Linked DNA regions of Homo sapiens. The protein of the gene in region 1 interacts with the protein of each later gene in a biochemical or structural test. Each region holds a gene or a part of one and is shown on either strand. Other genes may lie near its edges. The genes, in order: SORL1 and SORT1.

The links.
Region 2: the proteins of SORL1 (region 1) and SORT1 form a complex in vitro, tested with the Homo sapiens proteins (one study listed by BioGRID).

What each region holds. Positions count from the first base shown.
Region 1 is NC_000011.10:121,550,914-121,561,683, forward strand, and holds part of SORL1 (sortilin-related receptor preproprotein), read left to right. Parts: intron 1-3,023; coding exon 3,024-3,196; intron 3,197-4,273; coding exon 4,274-4,405; intron 4,406-6,400; coding exon 6,401-6,492; intron 6,493-7,677; coding exon 7,678-7,924; intron 7,925-8,605; coding exon 8,606-8,744; intron 8,745-10,770. UniProt on the Homo sapiens protein: Sorting receptor that directs several proteins to their correct location within the cell. Along with AP-1 complex, involved Golgi apparatus - endosome sorting.
Region 2 is NC_000001.11:109,337,120-109,347,889, forward strand, and holds part of SORT1 (sortilin isoform 1 preproprotein), read right to left. Parts: intron 10,414-10,770; coding exon 10,364-10,413; intron 8,763-10,363; coding exon 8,632-8,762; intron 5,040-8,631; coding exon 4,895-5,039; intron 3,761-4,894; coding exon 3,605-3,760; intron 1-3,604.

The DNA.
Region 1 (10,770 bases):
TTTGTTAATTGAAAAATATTTATTCAGCATCCACTGGGGTAGAAAGATCCCCACAGGCTTTTGTGTGTTCCTTAATCTGTTTGTCAAAGTTGAGTATAAAGAGGTGTGTGACTTCTTAGGAAGTAGCTAAGTAGTCTATGTTAATTTTATAATAAAACTAACTGTAACTAAAATTTTAATGGAATTTTATAGATTTCAGTGTACTTTTTATGTGTTGCCAGTTTAACCCTTTTAACAACTCAGGGAAGCAGATATTATCAATTTTGTTTTTTACTTTTTCACGAGGAAGCATGTTCAGAGGAGGTTAAATGGCTTAAGGTCACACATCTAGTAAGTGACAAAGTTGAAATTCAGACTCTAAGCCCCATGCTCTTCATTGGACATTGCCCAAATGGCAAATAAATATCATTCTCACTATTTTAGATAATCATTATGCATGCTAATTAAGAAAAACTTCTCTGAAATGATTCACATGCTATAAAGGTATAGTGTGTTCTAAAACACGTTTCTGCTAGATTTAGTGGTGATGTAACATGGGGTCTTTACCACAGAGACATGAAATTATGATACTTTGAAAAATAATCTCTTAGTTGCTTTTCTTCACTCTGTTTCCAGTTCTTATTCATTTAAAGCTTCTTTATTCCCTCTGTGCCCTCTTTCCTGCCCATTACCTCTTGGTGAAGGTAAATGGCTGGAGTTAACTTCCGTCTGTGGTGGGTGGTGGTGTCTTACGTGGACAGCCATAAGCACCGAATGAATCATGAAAGAAGTGTGTGGTCTCCACAGGCAGGGCAGGGCAGCCCTCTCTTTTGCTCACTGCCGCCAGCTTGCCCTGGTGTTTTTCATGCTAAGTTCGTTAGTCCCTTAATTTAATCTTTCATCATTACCAGAGTAATTAACATACCTCACTATGGAGGCTTGAAAAGAACCACCACTTCAGCAAATTCCAACAAATGAGCAGATAATATTCAAATATTTCCCTCACAAGAGCTGTTATTGATGAGGGCGTGGGTTAGTAGGGTTTGAGTGATTGCTCTTGAGGGGCTGGAGTGCCTACTTTTGTAATAAATATTTCTGAAGATAATTCAGCAAGGGACAAAACAGTTTGTTTAAAGCCATCTAAACTGGCAGGAAAGCTATTTTCTCTTCTACTGGAAGATAGAACAGGGAACGAAGTGGAGAAATCTCATTCCATTGTGGGCCACCTCCTATGTAAAAGAGAGAAAAAAAAAGGCATGGAATAGGAGGCAGGGATATACCAGGAAAGAAAAAGATGCTTTCACAGGACTAATGGGGGCCGTAATATCTTTGCAAAGATGAGGTAATCTGGGCATCTGGAAGGATTTTTTAAATGCAAGAATTTTTCTTCCTTTACAATTACTATGAAAACACACATTCCTTGGCCAGGACCAGCCAAGAATTCCATTCCTTTTCCAGGTTAAGCATTGCGCGCTGGAATGCCGCATGCTGCTCTGAACATAATCCTAAAACACGTATTTCTGGATTCAGGTTCTACTTTATGGGTATTAGTTTCTTAGAGGAAAAAAAAGCCCAGAGTGACAGAATGAGGTTTATAGATGCTGGAGAGAGATGTGGGGCAAAAGCCTTGCTGCTGCAAATGTAGCTTTCATGTCCCTATACCTTAGCTGGCCCCCTCCCTGGGAATGACAGCGGGAAGGTTTCCTTGACAACCAAAAGGGGAGGTAGGTTACCATGTGATGGTAACATAGATACTTCTAAAGTGACCTGGAACCAAAGGAAAAGAAGGAAAACTTACCTTATTAAAAATTGTAGGTAGATTTATTTTTTGATGCATTATCTATATTACAGCTTTTATAAAGAAGGTGAGTGGTACATGTTAAGTCACTGAGTGTATGGAATCAGGAAGTGGGCAGGAATGGCTAACCCAGGCATGCAGCAAAAGAATTCCGATTTGCATCTTGGTCCCATATGCAACACACTGTCAAGATGCACACTTTAGACACAGATGCTGGTGTGCTGCTTGTGTCCACTCCTGGGGAAGAATCTGGATGTTTCCCAAGCCGTTCCCTAAGTGGACAAGACAGTGTACTGGGTCTTCCTATTTCCAGTTGTCTGACATTAGGTAAGTATCTTCAGCACTCAGGACCTTCATTTCTACATCTTAAAAATCATCCACGGTAGCGTCTGTATCATAACAGGCAGCACAGTGTAGTGGTTAAAGCATAGACTCTGGATCCAGAGTGCCTGGGTTCCAATCTTGGTTCTGCCACTTGCTAGTTGTGTGACCTTGGGTGAGTTACTTAACCTCTCTGGTCTCAGTTTTCTCATTTGTAAAATTTGGTTAACAAGAGTTCTACCATCAGGCAGTTGTTGTGGGTCTTAAACAATACCCGATACGTAGTAAGCACATTATACACAATATGTACACAATTTATATTTGTTGAGTAGAAACAGAATTTTTGTGGTGATTATGTTGTGGAACATTTTGTAAATAGCCAAGAACAAATGCATTATTAGTATTATTTTGGAGATCTAAGAGGTTCATAGAATTGCCATATGGTGTTGTGAACAATATGAATAAGTGAGCAAATTGATTAGAGAGCTTAGTTACAAAGCTTCAGTGACTAATGGTCTCTCGTCAACAAGATGATGATGCTGTGGTGATACAGTCACGTGAGGAGGGAGAACAGGGCGATTGGTGTAATTAGGTTGGCAAGTGTGACTTGAAGACTGGCAGGCTTAGCCCAGAAGTATGGTTGTTGAAGCATGCATATTGGGAGATTTAGAATAAAGAAAAACATAACAAGTAAAACACTTGCAGATGAAGAAACAGATTCACTGGAGTTTAAGTAACTTGCCTGAGGCAGAAATGTGATTCCATTACACACCTCCTGAGTCTTGATTTCTGTGCTCTTCACTTGGTCCACACCACATGCCAATGAATTTGAGGTTTGTGTATGAGAAACAAATAGGTCAGATGTGCTAGGACCTCTTCAGCATCCCCTGGGTCCAACCTCCCACGTGTCTTGTGTGTCTGGCAGAAGAGAACGAGTTCATTCTGTATGCTGTGAGGAAATCCATCTACCGCTATGACCTGGCCTCGGGAGCCACCGAGCAGTTGCCTCTCACCGGGCTACGGGCAGCAGTGGCCCTGGACTTTGACTATGAGCACAACTGTTTGTATTGGTCCGACCTGGCCTTGGACGTCATCCAGGTGAGTCAGCGCTTGGTCTGACTGTGGGAGCTGTGCATCGTGACTGCCCTGTCCTGATAAGCTGCATGCAGAATGGCCTATGGAAATGGGCAGTTAGAAGTTTGTAAGTGTTACTCATCTCAGGGCTGACAGGTGAAAGTTTCCAGTCTTCTGTGTTAGTATTTTTCTTTCTCTGTCTTCATCTGTTCATATAGGAAGGATAAAGAAAGCCCTAAATCCACAGACCTGCTTGAAAGTGAGGTCTTGCTTTTCCTGCTGGGAAGGTGTTGGGACTAGTAATGTAGGATGATTAGTTGCCCCCCTATTGTGCCAACTGCCTCTTGAGCATCTTTCTTCCCAAGCCATGATACAGTAACACTTGACTTACCCATAGCTCACATAATTATCCACTTCAGCTGTTCTGAACACAGGTAAGAACCAGGAAGTAAGCATTAAAGAGCCCTGGACAGGCCAGGTGGATAGCCATACGCTCACACCCATGCATTTAAAGGAGAGCTCTTTGATCTTTATTCATTGTCTACTTAATCCTTTTAGAAAAGCAATTCCAACAAATTTTTATCTAGATTCCAACCCAACAGAAATTTCACAGTGCCTGGGTATTTGAGGGGCTTGGGGTGGGGGATGGCGGTGATGCTGAATGGAGCTGTCCAACAATAGCACTTGATGGCTAAGAGCCTCACAGGGAAGAAAGAGTATAAAAGCAGACACAAGAACTGAAATGTAACAGCAGTCTGGTTTCACTTATTTTAAAAGCAAACAGACTCATACAATCTCAGTAATCTCTGACTTTATTATTGCCATACAGCATAATTTAGTAACCAGTGTTCATAATGATAATGCAGAGTAATATATATGATTAAATTCTCTTTATTCTGCTTTAAAAAACAAAAATGTAGTATATTTTAGAAATGCTTTCATGAAAACCTGGCTTCATGTGTCTGGAAAGTTTACTAACGTAAAACATCTCATCCCTTGCCAGTCCTGCCAGTTGAATAAAGGGTTACCCTTCATGGGACTGACTTGGCAGGGGGTCGTTTGAACAGTTCCTAGCATTTATTATTACTTTTCTCTCTTAAGCGCCTCTGTTTGAATGGAAGCACAGGGCAAGAGGTGATCATCAATTCTGGCCTGGAGACAGTAGAAGCTTTGGCTTTTGAACCCCTCAGCCAGCTGCTTTACTGGGTAGATGCAGGCTTCAAAAAGATTGAGGTATGTGTATTTTCGTGCTGTTCTTAATTAAGGGAGCAGGCGGGGCACCTGGGCTTTGAGCCACATTTGACACAGAGGCAAGGGCCAGTGTGTCAGATTACTCAGGAAATTTACTGCGAGTTTCCAGAGAATGGACCAGCTGAGCCTCTGGAGAGGAGAGAAAAGGGGGTAAGTACCTGTGAGTTGATCTTTTGGCTAGCAGAAGCTTAGCTAATAACAATAAATGGTAATATTTTTATTTTATTTATATATGTACTTACTTATTTTATTTATATATTATTTTTGTTTTATTTTACTACTTTTATTAAACATGATGGCAAAAACTACAATCACTTTTGCATCAGCCTAATATCATGGTATTATTATAATGCTATAACAATAATCGTCTAGTATTATTTTATTCGATTAGAGTGATAGCAACAATATCATCATCATCATCATCATTGCCACTGTTATTAATCCCCATTTCTCTGCAACTTAGCTACCTAGTAACCTGTCCCACCTTATATACCCAAGGCAAGGATGATGAGTGACCTCTAAACTGCCAAATCTTTGTCTGGGGGAATGTAGTGTGCTCAGCTCACTGCCTCAGCACCTCTTTATACTGACTCTGCATGGAGAGACGGCATGTGGGTGAAGTGGGAAGTGCAGTAGAAGCAGGGAGATGCAGAGGGCTAAGAGGAGTTGCAAGACGAAAGACACAGACTCGAGAGATAGACCCAGATGTAGGCTTGACTCCACTAGCTCAGCGACATGGGGCAAGGTGCTTATGCTTTCTAAACTTCAGTTGCTTCATGCGTTAGATGGAGATTCATATATTCGCACAACCATTTGACAGGGGTTCTCTGCATGATACATGTGGTTTAGGTTCTGATGATAAAGCAGTGGGCAGGACACACACGTTCTTGTTCCAGTAGAGCTTAGATTTTAGTGGAGGAAGCAAAATAATAAATCAGTTCTGTTGGTGGTACATGCTGCAAAGACTCTGAAGCAGTGCAGTGTGATTGCGCTTTTGGAGAGTGGGGCAACATTAGAATAGGCAGACAGAGCAGGCAACTTGAGGTTGATGTCTTAGCTGAGCCCTGGCTGAGAAGAGGATGATCTTTTGTCCACCTCCTGGGGATGCTGATAGAAGTGAACTGGCATCTACTGAATGCTGCCTCGGTGGTTATGTTATTGCTCTTTCTCTCCTTTCTTTAATTGCGTGTGGTCAGCACTTGGCTAGGGGCTAAAAGAATGCAGGTGATGCACAAGCACCCACCTTTTCACAGGCTGTGGGGCGACCACTGCACAACTCAAATACTGTTGGTGCAAAATGGTGTCAGATGAGCCAAGGTGCAGAGCTACTGATGCTTATTGGTCCAGGTGGGTCAGAAGAGTTAGGAAAGTAGGCAGGCCTGGCAGTGAGGTTTGAAGGAGAGTTATGCCTTGATTAGATTAAGCAGTGGGGCAGGTAGGCCCAGGATGGGATGTGGCAAGAGCAGACAGCAGTGAGTCCGCATCAGGCTTGGAGAAGCAAGAGATGACCAGCCTGGCTGACGGGAAGGAGCAAGAATATGAGTCCCACCTGTGGACTCTTCATTGCAAGGCTGTGACATTGAGAATTTGTTTTATGGGAGTGTGGAGTCATCGATTGCCTTGGAACGTGGAGTGACACGGGATGGTGAAATAAGTAAATGCTCATTTGCTTATTTACTTATTTGAGTAATTTACTTATTGATACTGCTTTGTCCAGATCATCATGCCCTGGAAACTGGGGCTTACATGGTTCTAGCTCCTCTTTCAGACCACTTGAAAATTGTCCCATGAGTCAGAGGAAGGAACAGCGCATTGTGACTAGAAGTTGGGGCAGGTTTCGCAGATGGGTCAGGTCAGGGAAATAGGCAGGCATGGAGGGGGCATGTCTGTAGCAGAAGCTGAGTAGCCATCTTTGGCAATGGGGGTCTTTAAGGAGCTCCGATCCATCTCAGCCTCTTTTCCCCCTGTTTTTGTCAGGTAGCTAATCCAGATGGCGACTTCCGACTCACAATCGTCAATTCCTCTGTGCTTGATCGTCCCAGGGCTCTGGTCCTCGTGCCCCAAGAGGGGTAAGTGTTGCCCCAAAAGGAAATCAGTCTTGCGTCCAATGCTACACTAATAGATTCTCATGGAAACACAGACTGCGGGACAAAAACTCTGTTTCTCATGATGGTGGTTGAAATGGTCTATTAACTGAGAAGTTTGAGACCACAGCTTAGTCATCGTGGTCAGGTAACTCCGTTCGCTTTTTGTTAGCCAGTGTCAGAGTCTCTTTAGGCATCCAGATGTCTTGCATCTGTGGGTTGTTTCTCTAGAAAAGTTGATGTTAAAAGAGAGCTTCTGTAGACATAGACAGGCCTGCTTGGATATTGTGAGAACTTTCTCTTGAGTTTCATGCATGGTACAAACATTTAATTCATTCCATCTTTCCCCTGCCTTCCCAGCATGTGTAGGTTTTCTTACGTACAATCAGTGTGCACTTGGGGAAGGCAAAGGTGCTTTTTATTAACTCATTAACTGAAGGAAACATAATTAAGAGGGAAATTCTGGATTTGACATTCTGGCTTTTCCTCTCTCGTAGCATTTATGATAGAGAATTGGCACAATTTTTTTCAAGGAAAATTCTAAGAGTAATGTATGTACTTGGTTGACAATATTTAGAGAGAACAGCACTTTATGAAAAAAATTTGCATTCTTCCTTTTCATTCTTAACCCTTTACCCTCACACTTCCTAGTGGTAATCATTGTTAATAATGTCTTGTGTATCTTTCATGATTGCTTTTACTTATGTACAAGTATTATCTTTAAAACACACACATATACACACACATGCACGCCAAATAGGATTGTAGTGTAGTTACTATTCTGTACCTTTTTAAACAAACTTAATATGTATTGAAAATAGTTCTGTGTGAGCATATATAGATTTTTAGGTTTCACAGTATTCTATTATATGTACCATAATGTGTCACTTCCTCTGCTGATTAACATTTAGTTTAATATACATACATATACATTTCTTTGTATATTATCTTTGCATAATTTGATTTTATCTATAGATAAATTCTAGTAAAGGAATTTCCAGGTGAAGGAATTTAAGTAGTTTCAGGTGTTGTCATTACATATTGTTATAATAATGCTGAAATAACCAGCCGGATCATTCGAAAGGAGTTTCTGACCTTTTCTGGAGTAGTATTTGAGCTCCCATTTCTCTAGTATTGATGAGGTATGTGTTCTGTCCCCATTTTCGCTAGGGTGATGTTCTGGACAGACTGGGGAGACCTGAAGCCTGGGATTTATCGGAGCAATATGGATGGTTCTGCTGCCTATCACCTGGTGTCTGAGGATGTGAAGTGGCCCAATGGCATCTCTGTGGACGACCAGTGGATTTACTGGACGGATGCCTACCTGGAGTGCATAGAGCGGATCACGTTCAGTGGCCAGCAGCGCTCTGTCATTCTGGACAACCTCCCGCACCCCTATGCCATTGCTGTCTTTAAGGTGAGTCCATTTGTTGCTGCCGGACAGTCTGCTAGAGCGGGTGAGGAGCATATGAGATCAGGAGCCTGCATCCCTGGGCTTTGCAGAGAAGCTGTTTAACTTCTTAAAGGTTGCCTTTTTTCCAAATTTGAGATAACTTATTTTCAGCCTATGGAGGGATGCCAGGCAGAGGCGCCAAGGGTCCAGGCTCCCCTGCTGTTCACATTTCAAAAGGTTAAAAGTGAAGGCTCTTCCCATGAACATTCCCAGTTTGCCCCTCAGTGTCAGTAGCCTCATTTCAGGGTGGTGTCTTCATTTTTTGTGCGCTTTGCTCACTTTATTCTCTGATGACTTCCGGTGAGCTCTGCACCACCTATAGTGCCTTGCAGTTCTTTTTCGACTCTGGAGAGCAACATGGCTCTTCCCAACTCTGGGAAACAGATTTCAAACTGAGGGGGTTGGGTTTGTGTCATAAACTTGAATGCTTATCAGATAGTTTCTTTTGGGCAGTTTCTTCTGTGGGGTTATATGGTGAGGTTTGGATAAAATTGCTGTCCTTTGCATTTAAGTAGAATCTTGATCAGGCTAGTCATTCAGCCAATAAATGTTAGTTGTCTCCTGCCTGGGGGAACTCTTACCCTTAGAGAGAACCAGAATAAAGAACGAAAGAGCTGGACTAATGGGCAAAGGTTTTCTTTTTAGAATGAAATCTACTGGGATGACTGGTCACAGCTCAGCATATTCCGAGCTTCCAAATACAGTGGGTCCCAGATGGAGATTCTGGCAAACCAGCTCACGGGGCTCATGGACATGAAGATTTTCTACAAGGGGAAGAACACTGGTAAGCCAGAGTCTCTTCTTTTGTCTCTGTAGAGTTGATCTCAAGAAAGGGGCTGCGTGTGGCCAATCTCTGCTCAGAGTAGGAGCTGGCAGCCTGCATCTTTGTTGTCACGACAACATGCACATTATTTAATTTCTTCCTAATGACATCTTAATTTCTTTTCTAATGATACACAAACAGCTGGAAGACAGCATGCTTTTGCCTGCCTAGAGTGTTGGTGCTTGGTGGGTAATTACACCCTCCTCCTGCCCTTGGCCCCTGACTGATTGGTGGCGCGGCTTCTGTTGCAGCTGGGAGAGTCCTAACATGTGCTTAATCCCTGTTTGGCATGCTTGCAGGAAGAGACTCTGTGCTGGGTGCTCAGATAGTTGTTGCTTCCTGACAGGGCCTCTTGCTTGTTCTCTGGTTGCCCAGATGACCTATTGCTCATTGACCGTACCTACCTCTGCTGGAATGGCACTGTGTAGTTAGGTGTTGTTTTAATTAACTTTTCCCACCATGAAACCCTAAACCCCATGAAGAAAGAGATGGTCTTTTTTATTCCCCGATAGTTTTACCAGTGTCTAGCACTTTGTAGGTGCTCAATTCATATTTGTTGAAAGAATAAGGGATGAAAAGGGAGGGGAAGAATTGCAGTGGGTGCAGACAGTAGCTGTCTTAGAGATCTACTGGGTGAGGCTTCAAGAACTGCTATGAGGCTTTGACCTGCTAGTCCTGGAGTCTGAGACTATTCAGTGGAAAGCCTTTATCATTTCATGACTGCTCTTTGATTTTGCTTATCTCCCAGCCATACTATTGATTCTAGAGGAGAAAGATCAGAGGATTACCAGGAAGAATAGTCCCTTTAAGAATTTCCCTCTTTATCTCAGCAGGATTAAATGGCATCCTGGGTTTGCTGATTCTCCTTTATTGACAAACTGCTAAGTTTTCTGTTCTTAACTGGAATGTTGATATTGTTTTATGGTTCTTGGCTGACCCTATACTAGGAGAAAATTGACAGGGGAAATAATACTGTTATAGATATCATTGTTATCCTCTTGGGATTGTGAAGATAGCATGAGAACACCCTGGGAAAACTATAAAGTGTCTTACAAATGTAAGACGATATTATTTGTTATGTCTTCACCACTGACCTGTGAGGTAGGGAAGGCTGGTATTATGATCCATGGTTTATAGATTAGGGAATTAAATCTCAGATATGAATTAGCTTTCCCAAAATATCCTCACTAGTTTAGGGGCTGGCCTTTTGTTGCAATTCTGCCGCTAAATGGAGAAGTCACATTCTTTCTTAGAGGAGGCACCTGTTTTAGAATCAGGAGAGTTGAAGGAATCTTGCTTCTCAGCTCCAGTGACTGAAATCTTCAGACCTTTGTTTAATGGAGGACATCCACCCCTACTGATCTGACTTGCTAGCTAGCAGAGTGGATTTTTAGTATTTCTCCAAGTGGATTTTTAGCATTTCTCCATGTTACCACTTAGTCCAGAAGAGTGGGTCTTCATTTTTACAAGTGCTTGTATGCATGTGCTTGTTTGATTTGCACACAGGAGCTTCTGAAACACTGTGTGCAGATGAAGCCAGTGGCTACCCGGTCACAACTTACTTCCCAGTCTTGACTGTCCACTTCATCCCAAGAACTTGGGCACAGCTGACATGCAGTCACACCTGTGACTGAGGAGCAGTGCGGGAGGAGAGAGTTTGTGGTCTCAGCACATGCAAACGTGGTGTCTTGGTGCCAGTCAGACAGGTCTGCAATCCTCACCTTAGGTGTAGTTTCCCTTTCATGCCTCAAAGAGTCATCTTCATTTAAGTTAGCCAGAGTCATTTTGGGGCCCAGAGTGAGGTCTGGATAGATGACAGGCTGGTTTAAAAGGGAGATATGTATTAGCAGGGCATAGTGGCACATGCCTGTAGTCTCAGCTCCTCAGGAGGCGGAGGTGGGAGCATCACCTGAGCTCGGGAGGTTGAGGCTGCAGTTAGCCAAGGTCGTGCTGCTGCACTCCATCCTGGGTGACAGAGTGAGACCCT
Region 2 (10,770 bases), on another chromosome or scaffold:
CATATCCTATCTTTCTTGTACCTTTCTTTTTTCCCTCGTCTCTTCCCCATTCTTATTTTCAATGATATAAACTGTTGCAGGTTTTAAATTCAGAGATAATATCCTTTGAGTTTTCCTTTATTTTTATTTATTTATTTATTTATTGAGATGGATTTTCGCTCTTGTTGCCCAGGCTGGAGTGCAATGGCACAATCTCAGCTCACTGCAACCTCTGCCTCCTGGGTTCAAGCAATTCTCCTGCCTCAACCTCTGGAGTAGATGGGATTACAGGCACCTGCCGCCTGGCTAATGTTTGGTATTTTTAGTAGAGACGGGGTTTCACCATGTTGGTCAGGCTGGTCTCCAACTTCTGACCTCAGGTGATTCACCCGCCTCAGCCTCCCGAAGTGCTGGGATTACAGGTGTGAGCCACTGTGCCTGGGCTCCTTTGAGTTTTCTAAGAAAAAGCAAACAAGGAAGCAAATGAAGGAAAATTCATTTACTCAAACATCTACTGAGTGCCTACTATGTGAAAACTCTTTTTTTTGAGACAGAGTCTTGTTCTATCACCCAGGCTGGAGCGCAGTGGCACCATCTCGGCTCACTGCAACCTCTGCCTCCCGGGTTCAAGCGATTCTCCTGCCTCAGCCTCCTGAGTAGCTGGGACTACAGGTGCATGCCACCAGGTCTGGCTAATTTGTATTTTTAGTACAGACTGGGTTTCACCATATTGGCCAGGCTGTTCTCCAACTCCTGACCTCAAGTCATCCACTCACTTTGGTCTCCCAAAGTGCTAGGATTACACGCATGAGCCACTACACCCAGAGTGAAAACTTTTGTAAGCCTTTGGTAATGTATCAGTGAACTAAACAGACAAATATTGTGAAAAATACATTCCGGTAGGGCGAGACAAGCACTAGACATAGTAAATAAGTAAATTATGTAGTATGCTAGAAAATAAGTACTATGGAAAATACTTGCGCAGCTAAAGGTGGATTGATAGTGTGTGTGTGAGGAGGCGAGGGCAAACTGGAATTTAAAATAGGATAGTCAGGGAAGGTCTCATTCAAAAAGTAATACATGAGTACAGACATATCAGCCTTGCGGACATCTGGAGAAACAGAGGGAACTGTCGGTGCAAACTCTAATCTGTGCATGTGCATGTGTACCTGCTGTGTTAAGAACTGGCAGGTGGACAGTATGATGAGAGTAGGGCAGATGGAAAGAGAAGCGCTGGAGGTGAGTCAGGGAGGAAACCGGGAGCCATATCTCCAGGACTTTGTAGGCCACTGCCAGGACTTTACAAAATAAAAACAGCCCCTACCTCCTACCGAAAAATAAATATATAAATAAAATGACACTTTAAGAGTCTTTGTACTTGAGACTAATGTGTTTATTTGTATAACTGGGCCTAAGGAAAGGTGAGCTCTGTAGAGCCATTGAGTAGAACACAAGAAGAACCCTGGCTGGCTACTGCTATGCACCCTTACCAAGAAGAGCAGGAAGTGGGTCAAATTCAGGCTTATTCTCATAGGCCTACATCTCCCAATATAGAAGACTCACTTTATTACCTAAACAACATAGATTCAAAACATCTTTTTTTCTACTTGTTGTTGCTCTCCTCACTCCTAGTTCTATTTATCATAACTTATTTAAAATAGGGAGCCTGAATTTGCATGGGTTTGGTCTGTCCCTGCTGGACTGTCCTCCTGATCCCTCCTCCCCCGGCATCACCCAATGTCTCACCACCACCACCAGGCCAAACCCTCCTGTGACTCTGATACTTTTTTTTTTTTTGAGATGCAGTCTCACTCTGTTGCCCAGGCTGGAGTGCAGTGGCATGGTCTTGGCTCACTGCAAGCTCAGCCTCCCGGGTTCACGCCATTCTCCTGCCTCAGTCTCCTGAGTAGCTGGGACTACAGGTGTCCACCACCACGCCCAGCTAATTTTTTGTATTTTTAGTAGAGACGGGGTTTCGCCGTGTTAGCCAGGATGGTCTCGATCTCCTGACCTCATGATCCACCTGCCTCAGCCTCCCAAAGTGCTGGGATTACAGGTGTGAGCCACCGCGCCCAGCGACTCTGATACTTTGCATGTGTACTTCCTTCAGCTGAAAATGCCCTTCCCTCCCCATTCCTGCCTATCATACTTAAGGCTCAGTCTTAAATGTTTTTCAAGTGTGTTCACTGTATGGTTTTGAGTGCAAGGCTGTTCAGCCGTTTATTTGTAGGCTCATTTGGCAAGTATTACTGAACATCTACTATGTGCAAAAATTGTCATAAGCACCAGAGGAGCATCAGTGAACACAACTTTAAAAATCACTGCCATCCATAGGACTCAATTAGAAGCTTCCTCAACGAAGATATTCACATGGCCAACGAGCATATAAAAAGTTGTTCAACATCTTTAGTCATTAGAGAAATGCAAATCAAAGCTATAAACGAGATAGTATTTCACTCCCATTAGGAGTGCTGTTACAAAAATAGGAGAATATAATGTGTTTGCAATGAAGTAGAGAAATTGGAATCCTTTTGTATTGCATGTAAAATGGTACAACCATGTGGAAAACCCATTGGTATTTCCTCCAAAAGAGAAACATGGAATTATCATGTGATCCTGCTATTTCACTCCTACATATATCCCCAAAGGAACTGAAAGCATTGACTTAAACAGTTACATGTATAACAATGTTCATGGCAGCATTCAGTATTCATAAGAGCTGAAAATGGAAACAGCCTAAGTGTCCATCAATGGAGGAATAAAAAACAGGCTGGGCATGGTGGCTCACGCCTGGAATCCCAGCACTTTGGGAGGCCAAGGCAGGCAGATCACCTGAGGTCAGGAGCTCGAGACCAACCTGGCCAACATGGTGAAACCCCATCTCTACTAAAAATACAAAAATTAGCTGGGTGTGGTGGCACACACCTGTAAACCCAGCTACTCAGGAGGCTGAGGCAGGAGAATCCCTTGAACTTGGGAGACCAAGGTTGCAGTGAGCTGAGATCACGCCACCGCACTCCAGTCTGGGCAACAGAGCGATTCCATCTCAAAAAAAAAAAAAAAAAAGAAAGAAAAAGAAAAAAAAGGTGCTATATTCAAACAAAGGAATATATTCTAGTCTTAAAAAGCAATAAGTGAAATTCTAAAACATGCTGCAATGTGGCTGAACTTTGAAACAATATGCAAAATGAAAGAAGCCAGACATACAACAACCAATAGTGTATGATTCTGCTTACATGAGCTACCTAGAATAGGCAAATTCATTGAGACATAAAATAGAATGTTGGTTACCAGAGCTGGGTGACTGGGTGGGGAACGAGGAGTGCTTGTGCACCTGGTGCAATTTCTATTTGGGATGATGAAAAAGCTCTGGAAATAGGGGTGATGGTTGTGCAACATTGTGACTGTGCTTAATGCTACTGAATTGTACCCTATACAATGTTAAAAACTGCAAATTTTGTTAGACATATTGCCACAATAAAAAAAAAAAAGGAAACAAAAAAATGTACATGGGTAGGCTTGTTGGCTTGGCAAGCAACATTACTAGGGGACAGGTTCCCCGAAGCCTCAAATCCTACCACATGCAGCTGAAGGCACAGTACACCACTGCGATGCCGAGACTCACCTTCGGAGAGCACGCTTGTTATGTAGACGCCGCGGAGGGAGGTCACGTTGGTAAAGTCCGTCTCTCCGCCTGTGGTAGTGTAGAGATGTCGGTCCAAAGACTTGGAATAGACAATGCCTCGATCATCTGAGGTAAAGATTGTGCCAAACCCAGTGTCTGAAATAGGCAAACAAACAAAAATACTAAGTCTTGGGTGGAACCAAAGAGAAAAACAATAGTCTAACCACACACGATTACCTGCCTGACCAAACACAGTAGCCAATTGTGTCTCTTCATGATGAAGACTCAGACCTGAGAATTAATCAAGGTTTGATACTCAAGATCTTTATGCCCATCTTTAATTCTAGTACCCAGCTTAGTGCCTGGAATATGGCAGATGCTGAGTTTGTTGAATAAATTAATCAGATGCTACAGAAAAACTCTTCCCAGATATATTTTGGTGGGAGAGGCCCTATGTTTAGTTTACATATTTTTAAATCTTTACACTCTAGAACAATGCTTCTCAAACTATCTGTAGTGAAGGATCAATTTGTAAGATTTCCAATATGTCACAAACTGATGCTATTGTAAAACATAATAAAAACTAATCATTAGAAAATGAAAAGGTAAACAAAATATATGCCCCTAAGTTTTTTTTTTTTGAGATGGAGTCTCGCTCTGTTGCCCAGGCTGGAGTGCAGTGGCACGATCTCAGCTCACTGCAAGCTCCACCTCCCGGGTTCATGCCATTCTCCTGCCTCAGCCTCCTGAGTAGCTGGGACTATAGGTGCTCGCCACCACGGCCAGCTAATTTTTTGTATTTTTTGTAGTAGAGATGGGGTTTCACTGTGTTAGCCATGACGGTCTCGATCTCCTGACCTCGTGATCTGCCCGCCTCAGCCTCCCAAAGTGCCAGGATTACAGGTGTGAGCCACTGCGCCCAGCCATAAACCCCTAATTTTTTGTCATTAGATCCAACAGACATAAAATTGCTTTGTCAAAAGGCTAGAAGAGTTTCCAAACTCTTGCTCTCAATTTCTGTACTTATCTGGTAACAGATAGTTTGCAAATCAGTACCAGTCTGCTGACCATTCTTTGAGCAGCTCTGCTCTAGAACACCTGAACATACACACAAGCTACCAAAACAAGTGGCATTTTTAACAGGGGCTACAGATGATCTCTAGGACAGAAAAATCAGTAGGGCACTAATAAATTTCTAGGGGTAAGAGGAAAACTCGACATGTAAAAATAAAAGCTGCTCAAAGCTTACATCTCTATGCTTTTAAGGGTAAGCCACTAAAAAGCTCTTACCTCCAGGTTCATCTACATGCATGAATACCATGTCATCATTTGCTGCCAGAATAGAATAGAACTGTTCCTGTCCCACGGAGGGGAGCTGGGCCATGCTCCATGTGTCCCCTTGATCTGTTGAAACGTGGATCCTTCTTGTTGTATCCTAGAACAGATGTCAATATTTATCTTTCTAATTTTCTGCCAAGATGCCATGGGCAGGGACATGAACAAGAATGTTTTAAATAACTACTATTATCCATTTCTCTACTGGGTACGATTGCTATGAATGAAAGGTCATAGTACCAATTACCAAAGCAATTTCTAGCCCCTAGCAAAGTTCTAGGTAAAGGAACAATCCATTCTATTCTAAGTAAGGCTATCTTGGCTTTCTCTTTGAATTCTTCATTCTGATGCGGCCCTGTAAGATAGTATAGTCTTGGTCTCTGATAGTCCACCTCCTTCAGTAGAGCTAAGGATTTGATGAGAACATTAGGTTGGCTTTATAGCCATTTGCATACACTCAGGTAATTCTTAAAATGATGACTACTGCATAAAAGTTTGGTCCCTTTCATACAGTGCTTGCATAATTTAAAGAATTATATACTTAAGGGTCTAGAAAATAGAGATGAAACCCATGTTTGGGAGATCACAAGGGAAGTCAAGATGTAACACGCCTTCTCTCTAAGGAAGTCTCTCAGAATAGCCAGGATGAAGGGAACAGGCATGGGCTGGAAAGAGGCCAAGGAGAGTCGGAAATTACTATAAGGAAACTGATTAGGGAGTATTTGGCTGACGAAAAGAGTCTGTTAAGAAAGCAATTAAAACTTAACTCTCTGATAAATAGCTTAACATCGCTACTAGATACAGTTAGCCTGAGCATGAGAATTAATGTCGGTGTTTCCTTAGATTAAATACTCTTTAAAGTTCAGTGATAAGTACATTTAACTTATTCAACTTATACCAACATGTCTCATTACTTTGAATCTTATTCTCATTACTGTAGGTAGAAACCAGAGTTCAAAAGTACATCGCAAAATTTTAATTCTGTAGACAGCATTATACCATATATGCAGTATAGCATAGGAAGCTACCTCTGGAATTTGAGTCTGATTTCCAGCAGGATTCCACTACTGGTTGACCCTAGGTAAGTTACTCAATTTCCTCACCTATAAAACTGAGGTAATACTATTAGCTCACAGGGTTATTGGGAGGATATTACAAAATGGCTTTGGAGAGTTATCTGTATTTACTGCCTACTTCTTCATCTCTAGTTCTCACTGAAGTCACTCCAATCGGCCTTTTAACTTCCAATGAAGTGCTTTTGTCAAGGTCACCAACAACCTCCACGTCGCCAACTCCAGTGGATAATTCTCAGAATGCACCTAACTCAATGGTCCTGATTTCCCTCTTCCTCCCGGATCCCTCCCTCTCAGTCTTCTTTGCTGGATTCTTCTCTTTCCAACCTTTCAGTTGTGGGTGCTTCAGGGCTTGCTCAGTCCTCCCACCTCTTTGCTACCTACTTACTCCTCCAGAAGGTATCATCTGGTCACATGGCTTCAAATACCATAGCAATTAGGGAGATTCATATACCCAAATGCTCACTTGACATCTCCATTCAGATATCTAATAGGTGTCTCATATGCAGAACTGAATTCTTTTTTTATTTTTTTTGAGACAGAGTCTCACTCTGTTTCCCAGGCTGGAGTGCAGTGGCATGATCTTGGCTCACTGCAACCTCCGTCTCCACAGTCCAGTTGATTCTTGTGCATCAGCCTCCCGAGTAGCTGGGATTACAGGCCTGCGCCACCACGCTTGGCTAATTTTTTGTATCTTTTAGTAGAGACAGGGTTTCGCCATGTTGGCCAGGCTGCTCTCAAACTCCTGACCTCAAGTGATTTGCTCGTCTTAGCCTCCTAAAGGGCTGGGATTAAGGCGTGAGCCACCATGCTCGGCCCAAAACAGAATTCTTGATTTTTCTCCCACAACCTGCTCCTCCTGCAGTCTTTGCCATCCTAGAAAATGGCACCACCATTCAGGCGCTCAGGATACAGACTCTTAAAGGTACCCTTGATTCCACTCATTCTCTCACAACCCACATCAAATCCATCAGCAAGTCCTATTAGTAATATGTTTAAAAATGTATCCACAGTCTCACCACCTGCCCCCTTACCCACTGCCAAGAGCCTGGCCAAGCTACCACCTCCCCAGCTTGGACTCCTGAGAGAGCTCCCGGCGCTCCCGCTGCTTCTGCGCGTGCCCCTGTCAGGCTGTTCTGCGCACACCTATTCTTCAAAAGAGAAGCCAAATCTCAGCATTCCCCTGCTCACAACCCTCTCACAGCTCCCAACACAAGAAGAGTAAGGCCCACATCCTAATTGTGATCTACAAAGGCCACATAAGGTCTGGCCAGGCCCCCTCTGGCCCCACTTTGGACTATTATTCTCTGTGCTCCCCCCATACTGCCCTTCTCCCCTTTGCTTGGATTGATCGGGCATGCTCCAGTCTGAGGGTCTCTGCACTGGCTGTGCCTCATCCTACTCTCCTCCCAGATGGCCACATGGTCAAGTTCTTGTTTCACTTAGGTCTCAGAGAGCCCATCCTAAACAGTCTGTCTAAAAGAGCACTGACTCCTGACACTTTGTTTTCTTACTGTTTTAGATTTCTTCGCGGCTTTAATTATTACCTGATACACACACACTCACATTTATATTTATTTATGAGACAGGGTCTTGTGCTGTTACCCAGGCTGGAATGCAGTGGCATGATCACAGCTCACTGCAGCCTCAACCTCCCCAGGCTCAGATGATCCTCCCACCTCAGCCTCCCAAGTAGCTGAGACTACAGGCACATGCCACCATGCCTGGCTAATTTTCTTATTTTTTGTAGAGACAGGGTTTTGTCATGTTGCCCAGGCTGGTCTTGAATTCCTGGGCTCAAGGGATCCACCCGCCTCAGCCTCCCAAAGTCCTGAGATTACAAGTGTGAGCCACTACCCCCAGCCTTCATATTTATTTTTTGAGTATTTATTTTCCCCCTTAAACATAAGTTCTGAGAGCAGGAAATTCATCTGTTTTGTTCACTGCCATATTCCTGGGACTTAGAATAGTACCTAGCATATAGTAGGCACTCAATTAATGTTATCTAATTGTATTTTTATTCTTGGATAATGAGCAAGAGATTGCTTTCTACAGATGTCCATTGTCTGAGTAATGCCCAAACACTGGATCAAAATATCCTGGCCGGGCGCGGTGGCTCACGCCTATAATCCCAGCACTTTGGGAGGCTGAGGCGGGGGGATCACCTGAGCTCAGGAGTTCAAGACCAGCCCGGCCAACATGGCAAAACCCCATCTCTACTAAAAATACAAAAATTATCCGGGTGTGGTGGTGCACACCTATAGTCCCACTTACTTGGGAGGTTGAGGCAGGTGAATTGCTTTAATCTGGGAGGCGGAGGGTGCAGTGAGCCGAGATTGCGTCACTGCACTCCAGCCTAGGCAACAGAGAGAGACTTTGTTTCAAAAAAAAAAAAAATCCCAAAAAAGATAACAGAATTCACATGGTGACAGAAGGCCAAAGTGCAGAGTAGCCTATCAGTCAATCAGCCTTTGCAAAAAGAATCACCCCTAACACTCACAGTGGTACTAAATATAACAAAAAGACAAGAAACTCTGTCAATGCCAAGTAATAAAGAGAATCTATACGAGAGATATTTGCAGAAATATCAGACCCCAAAGGGGAGAGGGCAATACCTACCTTATCAGCCATCACAGAGGCAAAAAGGAAACGTCCCCCAAGACCAAATGAGTAGATTTTCACACCAATAGTTTTGAAGCTTTTTCCCAAGTCTGAAGTTCTCCATAATTCCAGAGCCCCAAGGTCAGCTTCTTAAACAAGACAAAATATTAATTAAAATTTCACTTACTGGTGAGCCTAGTTCAAAGCAGTTGTTTTAGAATCAATCTTAATTTTATAGCTAAAGCATTTTAAATACTATGCATGTTAATCAAGTGACAACATAAAATGTGATACAGCGGCCAGGCGCAGTGGCTCATGCCTGTAATCCCAGCACTTTGGGAGGCTGAGGTGGGCGGATCACGAGGTCAGGAGATAGAGACCAAACTGGCTAACACCATGAAACCCCATCTGTACTAAAAATACAAAAAAATTTAGCCAGGCGTGGTGGTGGGCGCCTGTAGTCCCAGCTACTCGGGAGGCTGAGGCAGGAGAATGGCGTGAACCCGGGATGCAGAGTTTTCAGTGGGCAGAGATCGCGCCACTGTGCTCCAGCCTGTATGACAGAGCAAGACTCCGTCTCATAAAAAAAAAAAAAAAAAGTGATACAGCATTAGATATAGGCAATTCATATTTGTGTTTTATTTTATACATTTCAGATTTTATGCTCAATGGAAAGGTAAGAGATTACTTAATTCTAATACAGTGTTTCATAAAAACATCAAAGCCACAGCAGACGGGTGCGGTGGCTCACGCCTGTAATCCCAGCACTTTGGGAGGCCGAGCCGGGTGGATCACGAGGTCAGGAGTTCAAGACCACCCTGGCTAACACGGTGAAACCCCATCTCTACTAAAAATACAAAAAATTAGCCGGGCGTGGTGACAGGCGTCTGTAGTCCCAGCTACACAGGAGGCTGAGGCAGGAGAATGGTGTAAACCCAGGAGGCGGAGCTTGCAGTGAGCGGAGATGGCGCCACTGCACTCCAGCCTGGGCGACAGAGCAAGACTCCGTCTCAAAAAAAAAAAAAAAAAAAAGCCACAGCATGCTGCTTTACTTTCTTCATGGCACAGTTTGGAATTATCTTATCCTATTTTAAATTGTCTTGAGTTTTCTTTTCTTTTCTTTTAAGGGCTGGGGGTCTTGCCACATTGCCCAAGCTGTCCTTGAACTTCTGGGCTCAAGCAATCCTGCTGTCTCAGCCTCCCAAGTAGCTGGGACTGCAGGCATGCAACCATCATGCCCAGCTGGAGTTTTGGTTTTCCTGAATTTACGTTCCATGAGGGCAGGCCTTGGGTGTTTTCTTCTCTCCATCCTTAGAACAGTGTTTAGCATATGAGCAGGTGCTCAAATATCTGTTGAATGAGTAAATGAAAGATTTTGCTTTCTGTTTTGAAGTTGTGTCAGAGTTTGGGAAGCCAGCTGCTTCTGCAAACACAAACACAACCCTTGCTTTCCTGTAGAAATAACCATGCATTTCAATTTGCTATTGTCTGTAGCATAATATTTGCTTTACATAAATACATTGCTAAGATTAAATATTGCCTCTACGTATAGCCTATATTTTTACTTGATCTGGGTAGTGTAGTAATTTGGTTTTACTTTCAAGATTTTAATAACCACTAACAGCTTTCTTTAGCTATTACAATTTCAGGAGAATGGAGGGACCTTTTATGTTTCTACCTTGCACAACCCAGAAAATTCTACCATGAATGGACAACAGGACATTATTTTCTGGGACTAAAATATACTTACTGCAGGAGCCATTTGCATAGGTTGTAAAGAAGATGGTGTTGTCTGATCCCCTACAATGAGGCAAAAACAGGGAAAAGAAATGGTTTAAGACTGCTGAAGGACTGTGTTGACCTTACTCACAAACTTCCTAGCAGGTCTAACAAGCTTCATTCACAGGCACTGACAAGCACCACTTCTCAGGCGCTGAGCCCTGGTCCTTCACAGCTCTGCCTGTCAAGCTCCCCACTGCCCGGCCCATGTGTTGTCTACAGTCCACCACTTCTTTACGTGAACTCTTTCAGGCAGTCATGCTGGTCTACTCACCCTCTCAACATTTGCCTCTGACATTTTTGATCATCACAACTGAGGGGTGGGTGGCGGAGGTGTTATTGGCATCTACCGGGTAGAGGCCAGGGATGTTGCTACAC